3 linked regions of the Homo sapiens genome follow. The protein of the gene in region 2 interacts with the protein of the main gene of each other region in a biochemical or structural test. Each region holds a gene or a part of one and is shown on either strand. Other genes may lie near its edges.

Region 1 (5,916 bases), on a different chromosome or scaffold from region 2:
TTTTGCTTCCCTAGAAGACATTTTCAACGTCTAAAGACAATTTTGGCTGTCAAAACTGGGGAGTTGGTACCCCTAGCATCTAGTGGGTAGAGGCCGGCAATGCTGCTAAACCTCCCACAGTGCTTAGGACAGCACTCCACAACAGAGAATTATGTAGTTCAAACTGTCAGTGGTGATGAGGTTGATAAACCCTGCTGTATGTGTTTCAAAGAATGGAATTGCCAGAAGCCCTCGCAGCCAAGACAAATTTGGGTCATTGGGAGGGAATAGGGAATCAAGGAGGTGACTTCAGGTATGGCCGGACTGAGATGAGCTATTTTGATGGGATTAGGATTAAGCTGATTTCCTTTCTCTCACCTTTTCTTTGTGCCAGCACTTGGCATAGCAATAGTGGAAAAAACAGTGAAATAAACTTCTTTTCTTCTAAGCTAGATGGAATATGATCCTATTCCAAGAGCTAAAAGCATCATTCTACTTCCCTGTAACACTTGCAGCTTTACTGTAAGCCACATCCATGCTGTCAGGCTCCCAAAATGTCAAGGCACATGATTTTTTGGGGGGAGGAGGGGTGTCAAGATTGTTGCATTATAAACTAGCTAATTTATTTCCCAAGGTATCCTGTAATCATAGTGCACCTGGGAGGATCTAAATTTCTCACTGTTTCTGCATCATGCGCCATATGTGAATTTCTTTGGCTAACATACCCTTGCTTGATTTGATTAGTCTACAATTACAGGAACAAATGTCCCTTAAAACAAACTTTTTTTTAGAGTAGTTTTAGGTTCACAGCAAAACTGAGTGGGAAGTACGGAGAATTGTCATATAACCCCTCTGCCTTTATTGTCTTTTGACTTTATTACTAATTTTCAAATAAGATTTATGTAAATGCAAGTGTTATTCTGTTAATGCAAAATTAAATGTTCCTCAATTTCATTGCTCACTAAATGGTAAAGCAAAAGTTAGGAGCAGATTGTTCTGAGTTATGGGATATTCTCTCTCTCCCTATTCAGTAGAAGAGGGAGGATCATTTGCATGGACTTCTTAGGGACATTAGCCACTCGGTGTAAGATCATTTATCTTCCTGAAAATGTTCCCATGTAGTTATACATCATCTTTTTATTTCTGGGGGATTTTATTTTTCTTATAGGAAGTTTTCCCTGTTTGGCTTTTGCCTAATTGGAAGCTATTTTAAGTTATTCAGCATGACAGTTGGACTGCTTTAAAAGTTAGAGTGTACCATAGCCGTAAACCTTACTGTGATTGAGAGTGTTCTAGGACTTATATTTATGATCTTGTTTGTGTCTCATGTAGTTAGGGAGCCAGGGGGAAACTAGTGATTGTATTCTTGAGCAGAATTTTTTTCTCCTGGCCGCAAAGTCCAGTTTCTTCCTTTAGTCACAATATCTCTCTGCTAATCATGGCCAGTGGACACACTATAATGCTTCTCTGTTTCTCTTTTGCCTCCTTTCAATCATGGGTCTTCCCCTGGGCTTTCCCTTTAATATTTGACCCTTTAAAAAATTAATAGTCTGTACAGAGTAGATCGAGAGAGTAAGCTTGCTTGCTTTTTTTTGGACAGGGTTCAGGTTCAAGTTCTCAATAACAAGTTTTGTGAACTTGGGGAAATTATTCCTGAGTCTGTTTCTTTATCTAGTAAATGCAGATTATCCTTGTCTGCCTGCCTCTCAGGGCTGTTGTGAAGATCACATGAAATAATTGACTATGAGAGTGCCTTGTAAACCATACAACACATACAAATGTAAAATAATATGCAAATATAAGAAATGTGAGGTTTAGTAAATTACATCAATTATGAAATGAAAGTAGGGTTGGAGAATTTATTTTCCCTTCTGTTGTCTTGTTTTGTGTAGCCTAGAGTGCTTTTTCTTCATCTTAATAAGTTCAGAGATGACCTTCGTTCAGTTTAGTTGTAGTATTTTATCTTTTTATAAATAAGGTCAATGGAGTTAAATGCTTCACTTGTTGAAACATGATATAATTTGGCATTGATCAGTGGTTGGTGCAAAGCAAAATTTCAAAAAGAAAATTCTGATTTTGCTAAGCAGCATAGATCGTGCCTGTTAGAACATCCTCCTCCTCCTTCTCAGCGTTGATTGCCAATCAGTTCTGTAGAATCAGAAATATTTTTCTATGCTTTTTTCAAAAACTCCAGTTTGTAATTTGACTTACATTGCTATTTTCAAAAATAAAACAACTATCTAAGTATTTGTTAAACAATTAGGTAGTTGTTATACTTCACCCTTTTCCCCCTGACCAGTTAGTTATACTATGTGGATTCTGGATGGTAGTAGATCAAGTTAGTTTAGTCACAATTTATAAAAAGCCTTTTCTATGTTGCTAGTGTCTTCTCATGTTTGATACTATTCATAAATAGACCCAGAAAACTGTAGGACTCCGGGACTCAGGCTGTGAATGATTGGTAGAACTGTTGGAGTAGAGCAGGCAGACTGTGTTGGAAATTATTCCATCTAGAAGGTATCAGCTCCTGCCTCCTCGGCCTTAGTGACTAAATGGAAATACATTCTTTTCAAATTCAAAAGCCTGTTCATTACTGCTTTTCTCTTCTGAAGCACATTGCCAGTTTTATAATGAAGAAGGACTTAATTATTTTTCTTTTTCTATTGCTTATGTTTATTCTTCATAAAATGACTTTTCTTCCATTTGTGGGCTGAGAAATAAGCTCCTATATTGGACTTTGCAGACTTGGCTTTTTTATAGCGTAAATCAGCTCAGCTGGCTAAATGCCTCACTAAGTGAAACTTCATAATGTAGCTGGAACTAAATTGTGCTCTGGAGCATTGAGTCTTTAAACTGGATTATTGATTTACAAACCCATAATGGTGAAGAGGCTATAGAGAGACAAGAACCTCCCTCTCCTGATCCTTGAGCAAGTTTTTCCTCACTTCAGGGGCTCTGAGCTCACGAGCAAAATCCTAACCAAGTTTATCTTGCTAGGACAACCCATTTTAAATGCTCAATAAAGAAAGAATAATTCTTCTCCCGCTTAACCACTAAAGAACAACATATGTTTCTAACGTAGCTTTTTATTTTTTTTTATCTTTCATTTTTTTGTTGGTAAATCTCCCAGACAACAGCAGTTCTGTAGAGAGTTTAAATATGAAGGAATGGCAGGACGGGCTAAGGGCACTTCTACCCAACATTAACATCAACTTTGGTGGACTGCCCAATTCTTCTTCCCCCTCCAACGCCAACCACAGTGCACCAACGTCCAACACTGCCACCACCGACAGCCTGAGTTGGGACAGCCCTGGCAGCTGGACAGACCCAGCCATCATCACAGGTAACTTTCTCACTCCCTTCAGCTACACTGACTGCCAACAGTTTGGTTTTTAGCACAGATTAAATAAAAACCGAGATCTCTTCAACATAAGCTGCTTTTCACAAAGCCGCAAGTGTGGAGTGGCTTGTTTCGTTCTCAGGGGTCATGCAAGTCTCATTTAACCTGTCGGCCTAGTTGTGTATTAATAAGAAGGCATTTGGTGCCTAGGTTGCTTCTTCTGGTTTAAGTAGGTGTTAACATCTGGCAACATGTGTATTTTGTAGGCCTCAAAGTACAAAAGGATCTGACTTACTCTTCTTATAAGGAACATACTCCACTTTTTGTTATAAAGCTCTCTATTATAAGGCTGTCTTGTTACGCATCCCTGTCAGAGGAGGAAAAGCACAATTGGGAAATGCCATCAGGCAGTTCTGGGGAATGGTGTTTTGCAGCTCTGCCTCTGTGACAGTGGGGGACTAAGTCTAGTTCAAGAGGAGGCATGGGTTTGTGTGCCAATAAGTTCTTTGTTGTTGGGGGAGGATTGGTTTAAAAGGTCTTATTTGGAAGGAGTTTAAAATTGTAATCTCTTCTGTCTTTCCTTTTGGTTTTGCTTTCTAAATTTGTTTGACGACCTTATTCTTTCCACACAAACTCACCATTTTCCCTCTTTTTTCTTTTCTCTCCTTAGGTATTCCAGCGTCTTCAGGAAACAGTTTAGACTCTCTTCAAGATGACAATCCTCCACACTGGCTAAAATCCCTTCAGGCCCTCACAGAGATGGACGGCCCCAGCGCTGCTCCATCACAGACCCACCACAGCGCCCCCTTCAGCACACAGATCCCGCTGCACAGAGCCAGTTGGAATCCCTACCCTCCTCCTTCAAACCCTTCCAGCTTCCACTCCCCACCCCCAGGCTTTCAGACAGCCTTCAGACCCCCCAGCAAAACCCCCACAGATTTACTACAGAGTTCAACACTGGACCGCCATTAGGCAAAGAGGAGCAACCATTAGAAAATGCAGGATTTGTCCCACTCTGTTTTCTCCCTCTCAGCCCACCACCCACAGCTCCCTTCTCATCTCTTATGTTCTGAAGAATCCAGTACCTGATCAATTTTTTTTCTCCCTAACCCCAGATGCAATGCGATCACAGGGTCATTACCATCTCTTTATTAATTGTAAAAATTTTTGTTGATCCAGCATTTGAGTGACACTGTTGAATGTTTCTAAAAATGCCTTTTTAAGGAGAGAAAAAAAAATCAAAGGGCAGTCTCAATACTTAGAAAATTATTGTTTGTCTGTTGCGCATAATAATGACATAATCTGCTTAGCAGAAAATGACGATTAATCTATAGGAAAGCTCAAGTAAATGCATTATCAACTGCAGAAGTTTGAAAACCAGGTTCATTTACGTGAGATTGCTAAATGCATGGGGGAAAGCAGTGGTCCTAGCATCCATCTTGTATTCAGCTTATCATTATTGCAGGGAAAATGCTTTTAATTTAAATTAATTTTTAATTCTTTTGGCAAGTTGATGGCAAGGACTTGATTGTGTCATTAAGCAAAAGAATGTATTGGAAGTTGATGGAAAGACAAATTCATCTGTAGTAGTAACTGGCCGATTGCTAAAGAGTTCATAAGGAGGTGAGAAGTAATTTTTTTAAAGGAGAAAAATTTTTTGGCTTTAGATTTAAAGTAAATTGAAATGTTTTAAAGAAAAAAGTATTCACAGATTTAATACCTATTAATAATATAAGAGCTGAAATGTAAGTCATTTCTTCAGTCCTTCTCCTCTGTCGGAATCTTTTTTGTTTTACCATAAATTCACCTGACGAGGGCACTCTGAGATAGCACTGCTCTGGGGCCATCTGATCACCATCGGGAGCAAATCTCTGACCTCCTTGCCTGCAGCTTTTACTTAACCCTGTAGTTTCTGGACGTTTGTGCAGTATTGAAAAGACAGGAGAAAAGAAAACAGAAACCTGGTTATAACCTGACGCTAAAACTAAAAACAAGGAAATGTACCTCTTTCTTCAGAATTAAAACTAAAATCTTAAATAAAACAGAAAACTTGATGGTGACACTTGGGTTGTCCTTGTTTTTGTTTTTCTGTTTTGTTGGATGTGAGTTTGAAAGGTTTTGTGACAAGTAGCCATCAGATGTTTCCATTTGATTTTACATCTTCAACAGTGGGGAGGGAGGATGGTTTAGAAGAAGAAAGTGGAGGAGAAACAACCATTTTATTGACAGTCAATGGCATCCTTGACGTTCAGCCCATCTTGTCCTCAAGAATCCCTCTTCCAGTGCCTTTCAGTAGAAGATTCCTCTTTCTGCTATTGTATTATGCATGCCAAGCCTTCCCAACTGAGAAGCCTTATGTGCCAGTAATGGAGAGGTTATTGACATGTTGAGATGTTGGTTCTCTTTAGGGAGACCTGGCAGGAGCAGCAGTCACTATGTCACACAAGTGGCATCTCTTTGTGAGTGCCATGATGGGAAAGAGATCGGGAAACACTGATGTAGATGATCCACAGACACATCTTTTATGACTGACCATTTTAGGAAGTACCTGTTGATGGGGCAACGATCGCACCACTGACCAAAAGAGGGTAGAGGAT
Region 2 (7,993 bases):
CCATTTTCTGGAGCCGCTCCTTTTAGTGGAGTAGTCTTGAAGGGCGAGTAGGACTTAGCCTGATAGAGAAGGGAGGGAGGGAGCAGCGCATGAAAAGGCCTGGAGATGCGAGAGAATGCAATGTGTTAGTGGCACCGTAAGAAAGGAATGGGAGCTGGAGCTCCAGCGGTGGGCACAGCACATGGCACCGCGTGGAGACAGGCGGGTCTCCCCAGCCACTCCCTGTTACTCTGTTGCCAACAGATTTGTCACGCTGGCCTCAGCAGCAGCTAAAGTAAGACCAGATAACAAATTGGGCTATCTAGTACCTGCACTGTAAAGTTACCACTTTCCCCGTTGTAGTGGATGAGTATCTTGTGGAGACATGAATGGAAATGTTGTTACTCCTTAAATTTTACTCACTAGTTTTAGCGTTCGCTGGAACAATTATTATGGCTGAGGCTGTCAAATGGTGATTTTCAAATGCCGTCATTCTTTCAATATGTCTTTTTTTTTTCTTTTTTGAGACAGGGTCTCATCCATTGCCCAGTGCAGTGGTGCGATCATAGCTCACTGCAGCTTCGAACTCCTGGATTCAAGCGATCCTCCCACCTCAGCCTTCCATGTAGCTGGGACCACAGCCACACACCACCATGCCCAGCTAATTTAAAAATTTTTTGTAGAGATGGAGGTCTTGCTAGGTTACCCAGGCTGGTTTCAAACTCCTGGCCTCAAGCAGTCCTCCCACCTCAGCCTCCCAAAGTGTTGGGACTATAGGCATGAGCCACTGCCCCCAGCCTGGGCATGTCTTAGTTGGCTTTCCACTATAAGGGAGGGCTTTCCCTTCTACATTTATTTATTTATATCCTTATGGACTTAATGATTGTTTATTTTACTCAATGGGTTATATATAACCCATTAACATCATTCTTTATTTTGATGTTCACAGCCCCAGATTTGGCCAGTAGGAAGCCCTCTAAGCCCCTGTGTCCTGTGGCACATCTCCATCTTTTTCTGAGCCCTTCCAAGGAGCCCCGGTTCTTTTTAGTAGAGAATGACATTTAGAAACCAAGATTTGGGCACTAGGTGTTACAGCAATATTTTAAGAGCTTGCTCTTTTATTTTGCAAAGGTTTGAGCATCCATTGATGATTTCTAGCTCCATCATTCCTTCTATATAATTTAGAATTCTACTTTCCCTTTTCTCTCACTTTATTTACTTATATCAATGTGGAGTCATGGATTTTTATTTTAACCAGTGAGTTGTAATCCACTACTATCATAATTCATTTTGAATTAACATTACTTTGGATAAATCATTTTATTGTTATGTATATGTATAAGCACATACTATACATCTATATTTCTATACTAGACATCGATATTTCTCTGTCTCTGTCTAATAAACCATGAGTTCACACAGATACCTTGAGGAGGCTCTTTTAAGAGTCCAGGCTAGAGACAGTAAAAGGCTCACAGGAGGAGTGGAAGATGGCAAGGAGGAGGGGATGGATTCTAGAGCTATTTAGGAATCAGAACCAACAGCTTAAACCTACTTCAGAACTGGAAGAGATCATATTTTACAAACCAAAAAAAGTGAGACACAAAGTCAGTGTCAGCCCAGTTGATCCACAAAACATGAATGGGGTGCGTGTGGTTTTGAGCCCAGACGAGCCTTCCAGTCACTGCTCTGCACCAACTCCATGTCAGACCCTGTCTCCCGGGTGGATGGGTGAGGCCAAGCCAGCCCCCAGCCTGGAGTGAGTTTCCTGATGCATCCCAATTCTTAAGTCCCCAGCGTCTAGACTCCGGTTGTCCCCCAGCAAGACCCATGGCTTGGGGAACAAACCCATTTCCTGAATGCCTTACTACATGGGGAGCACCATCTGAGACTCTTACAGGCAGAATTGTACGGCAGTCAGACAGACCTGGGTTTGAGTTCTGGTCCTGCCACTTACTAGCCATGTGACTTGAGTAAGTTTACACTTCCCTGAGCTTCAGTTTCCTCATCTGTAGGATGGGGATAACAATACCTACTTCATAGCACCTGGCCCTTGATGAATGGCAGTCATCATTATCTCTAATCCTCCTAACAACACTGTGAGGAAGGGATTATTTAGCTTCATTATACAAAGGAGAAAATCAAGGCTCAGGAAGATGAGGTACTTGGCAGATCTCAGTGGGTGCATGTCAGCTCCAGGAAAGTAGAGACTACATCTGTCTTGGTCACCATTATATTCCCAGTGCCCAGAAAATTTGCTGGTGCATAGTAGAAATTTAATAAATATTTGTAAACGAATAAATTCTATCTCATTGGCTTCAAAGACTACATAATTTCTATTTAATCTTCTAGGACGGGTGTGTCTGGGCTAAAGGACCTCAAAGAAGGCTGTAGGAAGACTGTGCAGAGCTGAGACCCAAAATCTGGCCTCCTGATTCCTGATTCATGCTCTTTGTACTTCCTTGAGCCTCTAGATGGAAAGGCTGAACTTCCTTCGGCCTAAGATCTACCGTATTCTCCCACCTTCTAGATTCTCCTCACCCTTCTCTGGCCAGGCCTCTGCCTCCTTTTCATCTGTTTCTTCCACGCACCACCACCACTACCACCATCACGGTCACAGCCACGGTGGCCTGGGGGTGCTGCCCGATGGGCAGTCCAAGCTCCAGGCCCTGCATGCCCCATATTGCCAAGGACTGGGCCCTGCCCCACCACTCTACCTCCCACCCCAGCAGCTCCCTTTTCCCTCACCTCCTCCACTCCTGGTGAGGGCAAACGACAGGAAGAGCATTTGACCAGAGTCAGCAACTTCCTGTGTATCATTGGGCAAGTTGTTTAATCTTTCTGGAACTTGGTTCCTCATCTACAGACTGGGTAAATTCACCTACATCTTTCTGAAGACTGTTGCAAAGATTAAGGGAAATAATTGGTATGAACTAGCCATGTAGGCAATTAGATGCTTATCCATGTGAGAGGCTAGTGATATTACTGTGATTAGCATCACTTTGCCTAGTTTTCCTGCTTCCTGTCCAGACAGCTGTTCAGTTGGATCATCCACCTGTGTTTCTGGTGGAGAGGGGCTGAGGTTTCCCCTGACACCTAGAAAACTAGAAAGATGTCACTTAATATCTGTGTCACTTGGGACAAGTCTCCACACGAGCCAAGTGGGGATAAAGATCTTGAACATTCAAGGTAATATAAGGATTCAGGTGATAAAAAAAAAAATACAAAAGCACTAGCACAGTGTCTGACACAAAGGAGATTCTTAATGAGTTTTGGCATATTGGTTGTTGACTCTCAGAAATAAAAATAACAGCTACCAGATACTGAGGGCCTGCTATGTGCCAAGTACACAACAATTCTGCAAGGTATGTATTATCCCCATTTCAGTTACAGAAGTTGGGACTTGTTCAAGGTTACAAACTAGAAAATGGCAGAGCTGGTGGGACTGCAAGGCATGACTCTTTTGAGCCCAGGGCATGAGCTCCTTCCTACCTGTGTGCCCTGTTCCCTCAGCCAGGATGTCCTTAGCTCAGTCCTGAAGTAGGCAGGATGGACCTAATTGGCACAGTATCTGATTAGGAACAGTTAACTGCACGAAGGTATGACACTCCCTATCTGCCTCGAGCTTACAGTGGATGTTTAATATGTTAAACAGGAAATGTTTGCAAAAAGTATTCATATTTTTCAGTCAATATATACTAAGGACATTTATTCATTTTTCTTTTGTTTACTCAACATTCATTTACTGCTTAACATGCCAAGTGCTAAGGATGTATAAGGCCACATGGTCCCTGCCCTTAAGGAATTCATAGTCTGATGGGGGAAAACAAAATTACTTAATCAGCATGTACGCAAGTACTCAAATATTTGCACAGTAGGTGTTCAAACTATATGCAGTAGGTCCACAGCTGATGAATGACACAGATGATCCTCCAATCAGTAGATGCCTGATGTATATGTACAAAGTACTGGTTTGATGATACTCATTCAAAGTACTGTAGTTGCAATGAACCTATTCAGAAACTGCTCAAGGAACATGCACACGATAGGACTAAATGTACATACAGTTGGTACCAAATGCACAGGGGCTATACACAATAAATACAATAAAAGTACACGGATGTTTGGTAAGTGCACTGTAGGCTCACAAATGGGCAAACAGGTGTTTTACACAGTTGACACTGGATAAATACGCCGTTGCTAAACATCCAATAGTTAAAGTATACATACACACAGGCTTATTTTGTAGGAGTATATGCCACAAATGTGTACATGGTAAAAGTGAATACAGAACAGTTGAAAGCGTTCATTAAAATGCTGACTCCCAGTGACTTTTGGGGGGTAAGAATCGAAACCCCATCTCTCTACCTGTAACCTTGGATGAAATAAAGATTTCCTTCCTTTACTTGGGACTCAGAATCCTAAAAATCCATAATCCCCGGGGAGTGAGCAGCTTCCTGCCTTCCTTATTTCAAAGCCCCAGAGGTGTCAGTGTCTAGAGCTGGAGCCTAGTACATCTCCCCCCATCCCGCGGGCCAGCATAAGGGGTCCTTTGCAATCAGGCTCCCAGAGCCGCCTTCCGCGGCCCATACCGTTAAGACCAGGGAGAAGGGACAGAGAACACTGGTGCGGGGCTAGCGACCTGGTTGAGGTCTGCGGGGGAGTGCCGGTTTGACTCCACCACCCACGGACACCAGCTCCTCTTCCGGTCTCCATAACGCGCATGCGCATCACTGGCCTTTAAACGTGCACCGCCGGTCCATCCGGAAAGACGATCCGGCAAACTAATTACAATCTTGTTCCTCCGCCGTTGCAATGAACTATTTTCTCTCAGTCCGGGGTGGTACTTTTGAGTAACCCCTTCCAAATAGAAACCCATACCAGCCTATTTAGCTCGGTCTCCACTATATGAAGGTTTCCTAGGGCTTGGTGTGACGCAACGTATACGAGGCTCGGAAGGACACCCCGCGGAAGGATCCGGTTTGTTGTGGTGTGGGGAGGGGAGACGCTGACAAACCAAGATGGCGGCGGCGGCGCTGAAGGCCGCGGCGTTTGGGAGGTAACTGTGGTGGCGAAGGCTGCGGTAGTGGGGAGGCAACCACACAGTTTGGAAGAAACGGAGCGGGACGAAGAGGCGGTAGCAGTAGAGTCAGCCTGAGACTCTCAGAGCACGACGGCCACACGCCCCCTTAGGCCCTCGGCGGGCGGCGGCTGCCCCGCTTAGGGCCTAGCCTCCGAGCATTGCCTCGGCTTCAAACAGCGGCGGCGCCATGAGTCCTTAAGGGCGGTCCAAGCCTCCCGATCCCTGGCCCAGACCTCGGGCCCACCATGGAGCCGGGGTCCGACGATTTCCTACCGCCACCGGAGTGCCCGGTGTTCGAGCCTAGCTGGGCCGAGTTCCGAGACCCTCTTGGCTACATCGCGAAAATCAGGCCCATCGCAGAGAAATCGGGCATTTGCAAGATCCGCCCACCCGCGGTAAGCCCCGGGGCCGGTTTTCGCCGGCGGCGAGACGGAATGAAGCAGTAGGATAGCCAGCGGCGAAGTCTGGGGCGGAGGGCAGCTCGAGGTGGGGAGAGGGGGTGGCTGGGACCGTTGTGGTTGCGGCGCGGATCGGAAAAAGGGTGTTGGGCCAGGGGTCCTCTCGTGGTGTGAGGCCCACAGGTGACCTGGAGTCAGAGATCCACCCCCACCCCGGCCCTTCAGAATCACTCCGGGTTTAAGACAGGGATTCCTAGTGGGCCGGAGGGAGTTCACAGAGAGGCACCCCGCACATCTCTTAGCCCGGGCCACCTAGGTCGAGGCTGTAAAAATAAGACGTTTCTCCAATCTGTTGTCATCACTTCCTTTAAGGCAGGCAGCATAGTATAGTATTAATAGAAAGATCGCAGTCCTGAAGGGAGACAGACTTGAGTTCAAAACTCCACTTTGAAGCTGAGCAGCTGTGTGACCTTGGGAAAGTAGAAGTAATCTCTCTGAGCCCGTGAAATGGATCCCAGAAATGGTTATTTAGAGGATTGAATTAAACTAGGTAGCGTCTGTATGTAGTACGCACTAGATAAGTGGTAATTATTGTGACTGTGAGGGTGTTTGATGTGGTCATTGGTTTATTCCTATGTAGGTTGACTCATATTTACTCATACCTTGCCAGGCCAATTCATCTATGATAATATCCTGGCCTGCTGGACCAGTCAGGAAATCAGTCTCACAGGGATTGCTCTGTCTCCCTTGAGGTGGGTTCAGGGAATTGTCCTCTTCTTTTCCTCGTTGAAGGCAATGTCAAGGCCTTTTCTGCACATCATCCCGCAGACTTGACTTCCTATGGAGATGTTTGGACCGGTCAGCTTGGTGGTGGGGTGTGAGTCCTTCTCAGAAGATTTCTACTCTCCTCTGGTCCAGGATGTAGGAGATCCCAGAGGATAGGGCACTCTTGGGCCCGCAGAACAGAATGGAGCCATGGAATTCTGTCCCTTTTGGAACATGATTGCCAGGGGTCAGCAACAAAGGCCATAGCTTTCCTCCTAGGCCTGGCTTCAGGCTAGAAGTCTCCCAAGGGCTAGGGCAAGCTGCTGCCTTGCTGATATGGTGGAAAAGTGATGATAATGTTCAGTGATCAGTTGGGATTCCAAGGGCAGAAATTGAGCTTTGCTGGAAAAGGGTGTTTTTGAGTGGGTGTCTCCTGGCTGAAATGGAATAGGAAGCTTCATTCCCACCTGAGGAGGGCACCACAGGCCTCCTTATCCAACTTGGTGCTTTCTGGTGCTCAGCCACAGATCTAGGATGGTTTCAGATAGATCCTCTAGGAGGTGTTGGGTAAGCGAATTTCTTCCTTCTTGGAGTCTGGCCACAGATTTCTGAGGTATCCTTGTCCATGGTGAGGGAGTGGCAGTGGGTAGAGGGTCAGGAAGGCTAGTGGAAGGGAGAGGCAGGAGTCCTGGGCAGCCTCAAGGAGGCACTCCCTGAAGTGGTTGGGCAAGCCTGTGGGAAAAAGAGGCATAGCTGACGTAGGGGGTAGTTGAGGCCTGAATTCCTTTTTTCTATCTTGGACTGACTTAGGCAGGCTGGCCTTGTGTAGGTGTTGTTACCCTGCTTTGGGGCATCAGGAAGGGGAAGAGTGACATGTCCCAGGTGTGCATGGCCAGCAGGAGGCCGTCCTTTTCACTGCTCAACAGTGTGCTTCTCTCTAATCCAGGATACCTGGCTCTCTGGTTTGGTTTTGTTTTTTCCTTCTCTATGGCAGCTCCTAGGCCACCTTTAGGCAGCTGGCCTTCTTCTGGTTGAAGTTTGAAGTACTCGCTCAAGTGATGCTTGGGCCCAGGGTGGGAACCTGTATATGGGTGGGTACCTGGGAATTGGAGGTTTGCTGGAGGAAGGATGGTTTGGGGCCTGAATTGCTGGGCAGGTGACTGCTACGCTTGGGAAAGATGGGTGGGAGGAGAGTGTGGGTACCCTGAGTAGACCCAGTGGAGTTTGGAAGGATCTTGCTTTCTTCATCAGGTAGCCAGCCTTTTTTTTATCACCACATCCCAGTAATACCAACATACATTTGGCATACAGTAGTCTGGAGATGAAGGCAGGCGGTTTGCAGGGCCTTCCCAGGTATCTGTTGCATCCATGGCTCCTGCCGTAGCATTCCAGGGCTGCCATTTCCTGTCAGGTGCTTGATGTTGCACTGATTGTCTAGAACTTGATTCAGCAGGAAAGAAGGGTGCCCGGAGTTTTGGGTTTGAGCACCTTTTTAGCTGGGTTACCTGTGCTGAGGGGAGTGCCCTATCCTGATGAGAGGCAAGAGGGCATGGGGAGCTTGTCTGGATTTGAGCCATACCATTTTGGCCTGCCTGTTTTTTTTTTTTTTTGTCCCTGCTTACTGAGCCCCAGATGTTTGCCACCTGCTTTGGCTGGTAGGGGCAGGGGAGTGTGGTCTGTGTATGCATGCAAAATATGAGTCCTCTAGCCCATTTTCTAAAAGTGTGTGTGCAGAAGAGGTCAACAGTTTTTCTTCTCTTTCACTGTC
Region 3 (7,108 bases), on a different chromosome or scaffold from region 2:
GTGGCTCACGCCTGTAATCCCAGCAATTTGGGAGGCCGAGGTGGGCGGATCACCTGAGGTCAGGAGTTTGAGACCACCCTGGCCAACATGGTGAAATCCCATCTGTACAAAAAATACAAAAATTAGCTGGGTGTGGTGATGGGCACCTGTAATCCCAGCTACTCAGGGGGCTGAGGCAGAAGAATCACTTGAACACAGGAGGCAGAGGTTGCAGTGAGCCGAGATCGTGCCACTGCACTCCAGCTTGGGGGACAAAGCGAGACTCCGTCTCAAAAAAAGAAAACTGAAAATGTCCCGTAGGGACTGAGGCATTGAGGGAGAAGTGAGAGGCACTGGGCCAAGTGTTTGAGGTGGGGTTGGGGTCACAGGGGCCAGGCCTGAGTTTTCTGGAACAGGTCGGCAGCAGTGAGGAGAGAGGCCTGGGGACAGGGACCGCCATTTGGGGTTCTTGTAGCTCACGTGAGAGCTGAGCCTAGGCAGAGACAGTAAAGCAGTTGGACATGTCCTTGGTGCTCCAGCGGTCTTCCCGAATCGTGAGGCCAAGTGGTGAACTAAAGTGAGCACCTGGAGCCAGGCAGCTGGGCTGAAGTCCTGGCTCTGCTACCGGGGCAGACTTCTGGACCCTCCCAGCACCTCCATCCTTCCAGAGCGTGGATAGCGAGAGATGAGAGCCAAGACTTGGGGTGGCTGAGAAGCAAAGAGGTGTGGCCAGCACAGGGCCCGTTGCTGATAAGGGTGTCAGATGGGGTGGAAGTGAGCAGACCCTTCGAGAAGTGGGTTCAGGGCACCCCAAGCACACACAGTACAGTGAGCTTGTGTACAGGATTTTCACTGCTTCCTGGTATGCACAGCATGAGGAACCGTGGGAATGAGAATTAAGGACCAAGAAAGCAGAATGGAGGTGTACCCATCCTGGAGCTTATTACAGTGATAGCTGATGAAGCTGAAAATGCACAAGGTCCCGAGTGGCTTGGAGAAAAGATAGGGTGGGTAGCCAGGCATGTCTGTCCGTGCTGACTGTCCTACCAAAACACCATGGTTTGCACATGGCAGATGTATACAAGCTGGAGACTCACAGCTCTGGAGGCTGGAAGTCTAAGATCAAGCCCTGGCAGGTTTGGTGTCTGGTGAGGGTGCTTCCTGGTTCACAGACAACACCCTCTCACTGTGTTGTCATATGGTGAAAGGGGCGAGGGTTCCTTTATAACACTAATCCCATTGTGGCGGCACTGCCCTCCTGACCTAGTCACCTCCCAAAGCCCCCGCCTCCTAACATCATCACACTGGGTGTTGGGATTTCAACCTATGAATTTGTGGGGGCATAGGGCAGAATTTTTGGACCCCAGCATAGGCTTGGTCCAAGGCCCTTATGTGAGCCAGCAGGTGAGAAGGAAGAGGAGGAGGAGTAGACACTGGCTTGGGAACAGGAGAGCTCAGCACCTTCAGAGCCAGCTTGGGGACAGATGGGGTGGGCAGCCAGAACCCTTGAGGTAGCTTTGCAAAGGGGGGTGAGGCCTGGGCTAGGGTAGCAAGGTCGAGGACTAGAAATGCCCCATATGAGAAAAAGGAAAGAATGTGGCTGGGGCTGTCAGCCTCTGGCAAGAGGCTGCCCACCTACCATGAGGGCTCACGCTTATTGGAGGGCATTGAGTTCCCTGATTCACCAGGCAGATTTCAGTTTGTCCCCATTGTCTTTGAGGAGGGGACAGGGTGTCAGGTGCAAAAGGGCAGGCTTCTGTGACAGGACTCATGTCTCATGGTCCTGCCTGGCCTCTCCCGCAGGCGAAGCTGGAGAAGTCACTGGAGCATCTCCGGAAGCAGATGCAGGATGCGTTGCTGTTCCAAGCCCAGGCGGATGAGACCTGCGTCTTGTGGCAGGCAGGTGCTGGGGCTCCCAGGGTCCTGGGTGGCAGGGTAGGGGGTGAAGGTCCTGTATAGGAGACCCCAGGGGGCGATGCTGGCCAGGCACACTTGCCCTTGGCGCCCCAGGACCAGTCACTGCTTCAGCCTGGCCCCACCGAGCCCACTGAAGGGCTGGTCCTTTCCCACGTGCACCTGTCCTGCCAGGTCGTGGGCGTGGGCTCCCATACTGCAAGGGCCCCATCCTGGGGTCCCAGCATGCTTGGGTGGCAACTCTCAGGTGTATTTAGGGTCTGGGCCCTGGAGGTAAATTTGGAGGTTTTGAGGGACTAGGTCATAGATGTGGGATTCAGCCATCCTGAGGAGTAGATTTGGGATCTGTCCAGTTCTGGGGTAGATTTGGGGTCTGGGAGGCTCTGGGTGGTGGATTTGGGATCTGGGAAGCCCCAGGGGAGAATTTGGAGGTCAGGAGGGACCCTGGGTGGTAGATTTGTAGTCCAGCTGGCCCCAGGTGGTAGATGCAGGGTTCTACCAAGCCAATGGGTGGATTTGGAAGTTGGGGAGGGACTAGATAGTGGATTTGGGATCTAGTCGGCCCTGGGTTTAGATTTGGGGTCTAGCCAGTCCTGTGTGGTAGAATGGGATTTGGCTCTCCCTGAGTGGTGGATTTGGGGTTTGGGAGGTGCCACAGGTGGGTTTGGGGTCTGGCCAGCACCAGGTGGTGGGTTTGGGGTCCTGCCACACCTGGTGCTGTGCTTTGGCTTTAGCAGGCCCCGGGGGTGGGGTTGGGTGCAGCCAGGCCTCTGGGTGGGCTTGGGGTCTGACCAAACTTGGGGTCTGGCTGGGCCTGGGGTCTGGCCTCAGCTGTCCTTCTCCCTGGGCTCCACAGAAGATGGTGGAGAGCCAGCGGCAGAACGTGCTGGGTGAGTTCGAGCGTCTTCGCCGTTTGCTGGCAGAGGAGGAGCAGCAGCTGCTGCAGAGGCTGGAGGAGGAGGAGCTGGAGGTGCTGCCCCGGCTGCGGGAGGGCGCAGCCCACCTAGGCCAGCAGAGCGCCCACCTAGCTGAGCTCATCGCCGAGCTCGAGGGCCGCTGCCAGCTGCCTGCTCTGGGGCTGCTGCAGGTGAGCTGGGCGGGGAGCAGCCATGGTGGCCACACGGGCATGGCCTGGCCACACTGGGGGAGGGAGAACCAGAAAGTGCAAGAAGCAGGGGCAGAGAGGTTGTCTGGGCTGAGAGGTGAATGGCATGGCTGGATGTGCCTGGCTGTTGCCTGTGAAATGCTGAGTCAGCAGCAGGACAGATGTCCCACCCCCAAAACCCACGTGCCGAGAAAGGGAAAATCAATTTTCCTCTGTAGATGTAAACAGTTGATGTTTCTTAAGTGATTACATAAGGTCACTCCATCTCGTCCTGACTGACACTGCTGCTCCCTGTGGGCACAGCAGAGTGGGCATGTGCTCGCTGGGACCACCTTGGGCCTCCCATAGGATTCCTGCCATGGTGTCCCCAGCAGGAAGTCCTCGCCCTTCACTCTGTCTTCACCCCGCTGGCACACCCCATGCATCTCCATTATGGGGGGCAGTCTCCTCCTCCTCTGCTTCCAGGAGAGTCTTTTCCCATGTGTGGGCTCCACTCCCTGAGCCGGCCCCCTGGGCCTGGGCTTTCCTTGGTGCACCCCCAAACCAGAACCAGTGGACGCCCTGGCCTGTGGCCTGGCGGCAGGTCAGGGGGCCTGGAGTCAGCTCTCTCCGCTTGGCAAGCGTGCACTGATGAGGACTGACGGCACTCCCATGCTGAGAGGCCCCGTGTGGGCTGGGAGTGTCTGCTATCATCTTCCCGTGGGGTTCAGCTGGATGTTTTTCCCACAAAATGGAGAACGTGTTCCATGCCCAGCATGGTGTAGACTCAAGGGGCCCCAAGATTCAGAGGGAAATGGGCCCCTGGGCAATTCTGGCTCCCACAGAGGAGAGAGGCCGTGTGTGAGTGAATTCAGCCACTGGTGGGGCAGGGCTGCCAGACCCAGGTGGAGCCCACAATGCTGCAGATGTGGCTGGGCGGCTTTGCACAGGGGGTGACCTGCTGCCGGCCTCTGGAGCCCAGCAGAACATCAGTCCAGGCACCGGCTCCTGGTTTCGATTGTCATTTCTATTGTAAGCTTTTTTCTGTTTTTTTGTTTTTTGTTTTTTTTTTTTTGTTTTTTTTTTTGTAGATTTAAGGGGTACAAGTGCAGTCAGAGTGTAGCCATCACCCGAATGGTGCACACTGTACCCAGTAGGTAGTTTCCCCCACCTCCAAGTCTGCAGCATCTGCTCCTCCACTCCGTGTGCCGCGTGCACCAGCTTGGACATCAGCTGGCTTTGAGCCTGGGAAGCGGGAAGGACGCTCGGCTAGCGTCTGTAGAAAGACTGAGGAATATTAGGAGAGGGTCCTGTGGTCAGTAAATTGTGGGGTGGGGAGGTACCCAGAAGACTGAGGAGGAGCCCTCAGGGAGGGCAGAGAGGACAGGTGTTGGAGAAGCCAGGAAGGGTTTAGAAGGAAGGTGAGTTGACCTGGAAATGGGGACCCACAGGGTTTGTGTGAAGATGCAATTTGGGCTTTCAGCTGAGACATTGTGGCATGTGGGCGGGTGGGTGGGTGTTGGGTCTCATACACCCACCTGCATTCACCCCGCTGAGTGGCCCACCCGTCCATGCCTTGGCCAAGCTCCCTGCCCAGGTTTGGCCTGGCTACAAGGCTTCAGGGAGGTCCCTCCTGTCCCCCCAACCTGCCAGCACATGGCCTGCATGCTGTGGGGGTCTGCCCACATGGGGGTTGCAGGAGAGCAGCCTCAGCAGCTCTGTGTTGATGTGAGCTGTGTGCTGGTTTGAGAGGGACAGGTGGGGATGGCTTTGCACCCTTGGCCCCCGGTTGGGTAGGGGAACCCAACCCGGGTTCCCAGCACCCAGGCCGAATGGACAGGGGTTGCACAGTGGAGGTAAAGGCTTGAGTGACTCCCAGGAATCCACCCACTGGGGCTCTGGCTGCTGTGGACTCTGGGGCCCTGGCTGCTATGGACTCTGGGGTCCTGGCTGCCCCCTTCAGCAGGCCCTGCTTGTAGCCGCAGAGTGGTTTTGTTCAAGTCAATGCTGCCCCTGGAGGGCCCGTGTTCTGTGCAGAGACCAAACCCCCTTGTCGAGGCCAAGGTTCTCCTCTACCCCCAAGCCCTTCTCCTGCCGCCCCTGCACCCGGCCTTGTGACAGCCACCACCTGTTTCCAAATGACACCAGGGGTGGGCCGCCCACCCCAGGTAGAATAACCAAGGTGGAGCTGCTCCCAGCTGCCTTGCTCACACCAGCACCATCTGCCCCTGCCCTGTGCACACCCCTCCCTCACCCTGCGCACTCCCCCTGTGTCTACCAACAAATTCTTCTTGGGCTTCAGAACCCTACCAAGAGTCTCCTCTTTATTTATTTATTTATGAATTATTTATTGAGACAGGGTCTCACTCTGTCGCCCAGGCTAGAGTACAGTGATGTGATTATGACTGCAGCCTCGATGTCCTGGGCTGAAGCGATCCTTCCATCTCAGTCCCCTGAGTAGGTGGGACTGTAGGCACACACCACCAAGCTCAGCTAATTTTAAAATTTTTTTTTAGAGATGGGACCTTGCTGTGTTGCCCAGGCTGGTCTTGAACTCCTGGACTCAAGTGATCTGCCTGCCTTGGCCTCCCAAAGTGCTGGCCTCCTTTTTAAAAAATTTTTGGGGCCTAGAGTGTGTTGTTGTCCCCCTAGACAGAATTAACTACCCGTATGTGTGGAAATCTTCCTTTGCCATTTCTCCTACATGTAGGGAAACCCTTGTCTGGGATTATGTCTTACTGACCTCTGCATCCTGGCCTGGTAGCTGGCACCACGTGTGTTAGAATGAACATGGTGTGGGATCGTCTATTTGACAGTGTGGGTTAAATCCTTGCAGTGCACTGAAGACTGCTCTAAGAGATACAAGACCGTGTCTCCTAAGAGCTGATGTTCCAATACCTGGGTGTATCACGCCAGCTCGGGCTGCCACATTTAGTACCACCTGCCAGGAGGCTTCCCCAGCAGAGACTGATTGTCTCCCAGTCCTGCACACTGGAAGACTGAGGTCAAAGCTGGTTCCCCCTGAGGCCTATCTCTTGGGCCTGTAGATGCCTTTTCTTCCCTGTATCCTCACAGGGTCTCCCCTCTGTGGGTGTCTGTGTCCTAGTCGCCCCTTCTTATGAGACTCAAGTTATTTTGGATTGCAGCCCACCCTAATGGCCTCATTTTACTATGATTTCCTCTTTAAAAGCCCTTTTTTCTAATAGTCAAGTTCTGAAGTCCTGAAGTTTCTGGCTTCAACATACGGATTTGGCGGGATGGACACAATTCGGGCCCTAACATGGAGTCAGATGCTATCACGTATCAGGCAGTGACACAGGAAGGACGCACGCCCAAGAGTGGGGCTGAGCAGGGAGCCTGCAGGGCAGGTGGAGCTGGGAGAGGAAGCAGTGCAACCACAGGGTTGGGCTCCAGCTGGGGTGGAGGTGCCCCTATGCTGAAGGCTGGGATGTGTGCCTGTCCTGTCCTTGGCACCCAGAGGCGCCCACTTGGGGCTCTGGGTGAGTGAGCCAACAGCCAGATGCCCTACATCCAAGTGTCAGGCAGAAGTGGGCCTTGGTCCGCAGGGCTGGGCTGCACCCCATTGGTGATGCCTCCTGGCACACATGTCAGAGCCTCTGTCCAGCATTCCTGTGTCTGAGCCTTGCTGCGGGTGGTTTATGGCCCCCTGTGTGTGTTTTTGCTGCCTGACGCTCAAATGTAGGAGAGGGGGACGGGGCGAGGCTCCAGGGGCGGGGAGGGGACTCCAGGAGCAAGCGATGGTCACTGACACCGAGTGTGCTGTTTCTCCTCCCCACATAGGACATCAAGGACGCCCTGCGCAGGTACGAACCCAGCCTCTCCTGGAGGGGGGGCAGGAGGGAGTGGGGTGGGACCCAGCTGTTGGCCATGGCGACAACACCTGGGTTGTCCCCTCTAGGGTCCAGGATGTGAAGCTGCAGCCCCCAGAAGTTGTGCCTATGGAGCTGAGGACCGTGTGCAGGGTCCCGGGACTGGTAGAGACACTGCGGAGGTTTCGAGGTAGGTGTGGAGGCCCCAGGTGGGGAGATGACTCCAGGAGGGGACCTGCCAAGGACCTGGGCAGCCAGCCACGTGTTCTGTGCCCTGCCACTGCCAGCTCCAAACTCACAG

The links.
Region 1: of the proteins of KDM5C (region 2) and CNOT4, one has a biochemical effect on the other in vitro, tested with the Homo sapiens proteins (one study listed by BioGRID).
Region 3: the proteins of KDM5C (region 2) and TRIM11 form a complex in vitro, tested with the Homo sapiens proteins (one study listed by BioGRID).

What each region holds. Positions count from the first base shown.
Region 1 is NC_000007.14:135,361,260-135,367,175, reverse strand, and holds the end of CNOT4 (CCR4-NOT transcription complex subunit 4), read left to right. Parts: intron 1-3,109; coding exon 3,110-3,322; intron 3,323-3,989; coding exon 3,990-4,291; 3' UTR 4,292-5,381; downstream 5,382-5,916. UniProt on the Homo sapiens protein: Has E3 ubiquitin ligase activity, promoting ubiquitination and degradation of target proteins. Involved in activation of the JAK/STAT pathway. Catalyzes ubiquitination of methylated RBM15.
Region 2 is NC_000023.11:53,222,204-53,230,196, reverse strand, and holds the start of KDM5C (lysine-specific demethylase 5C), read left to right. Parts: upstream 1-4,989; 5' UTR 4,990-5,307; coding exon 5,308-5,457; intron 5,458-7,993. UniProt on the Homo sapiens protein: Histone demethylase that specifically demethylates 'Lys-4' of histone H3, thereby playing a central role in histone code. Does not demethylate histone H3 'Lys-9', H3 'Lys-27', H3 'Lys-36', H3 'Lys-79' or H4 'Lys-20'.
Region 3 is NC_000001.11:228,396,836-228,403,943, reverse strand, and holds part of TRIM11 (E3 ubiquitin-protein ligase TRIM11), read left to right. Parts: intron 1-1,782; coding exon 1,783-1,878; intron 1,879-2,749; coding exon 2,750-2,980; intron 2,981-6,778; coding exon 6,779-6,801; intron 6,802-6,834; exon of another isoform or gene 6,835-6,896; coding exon 6,897-6,997; exon of another isoform or gene 6,998-7,108.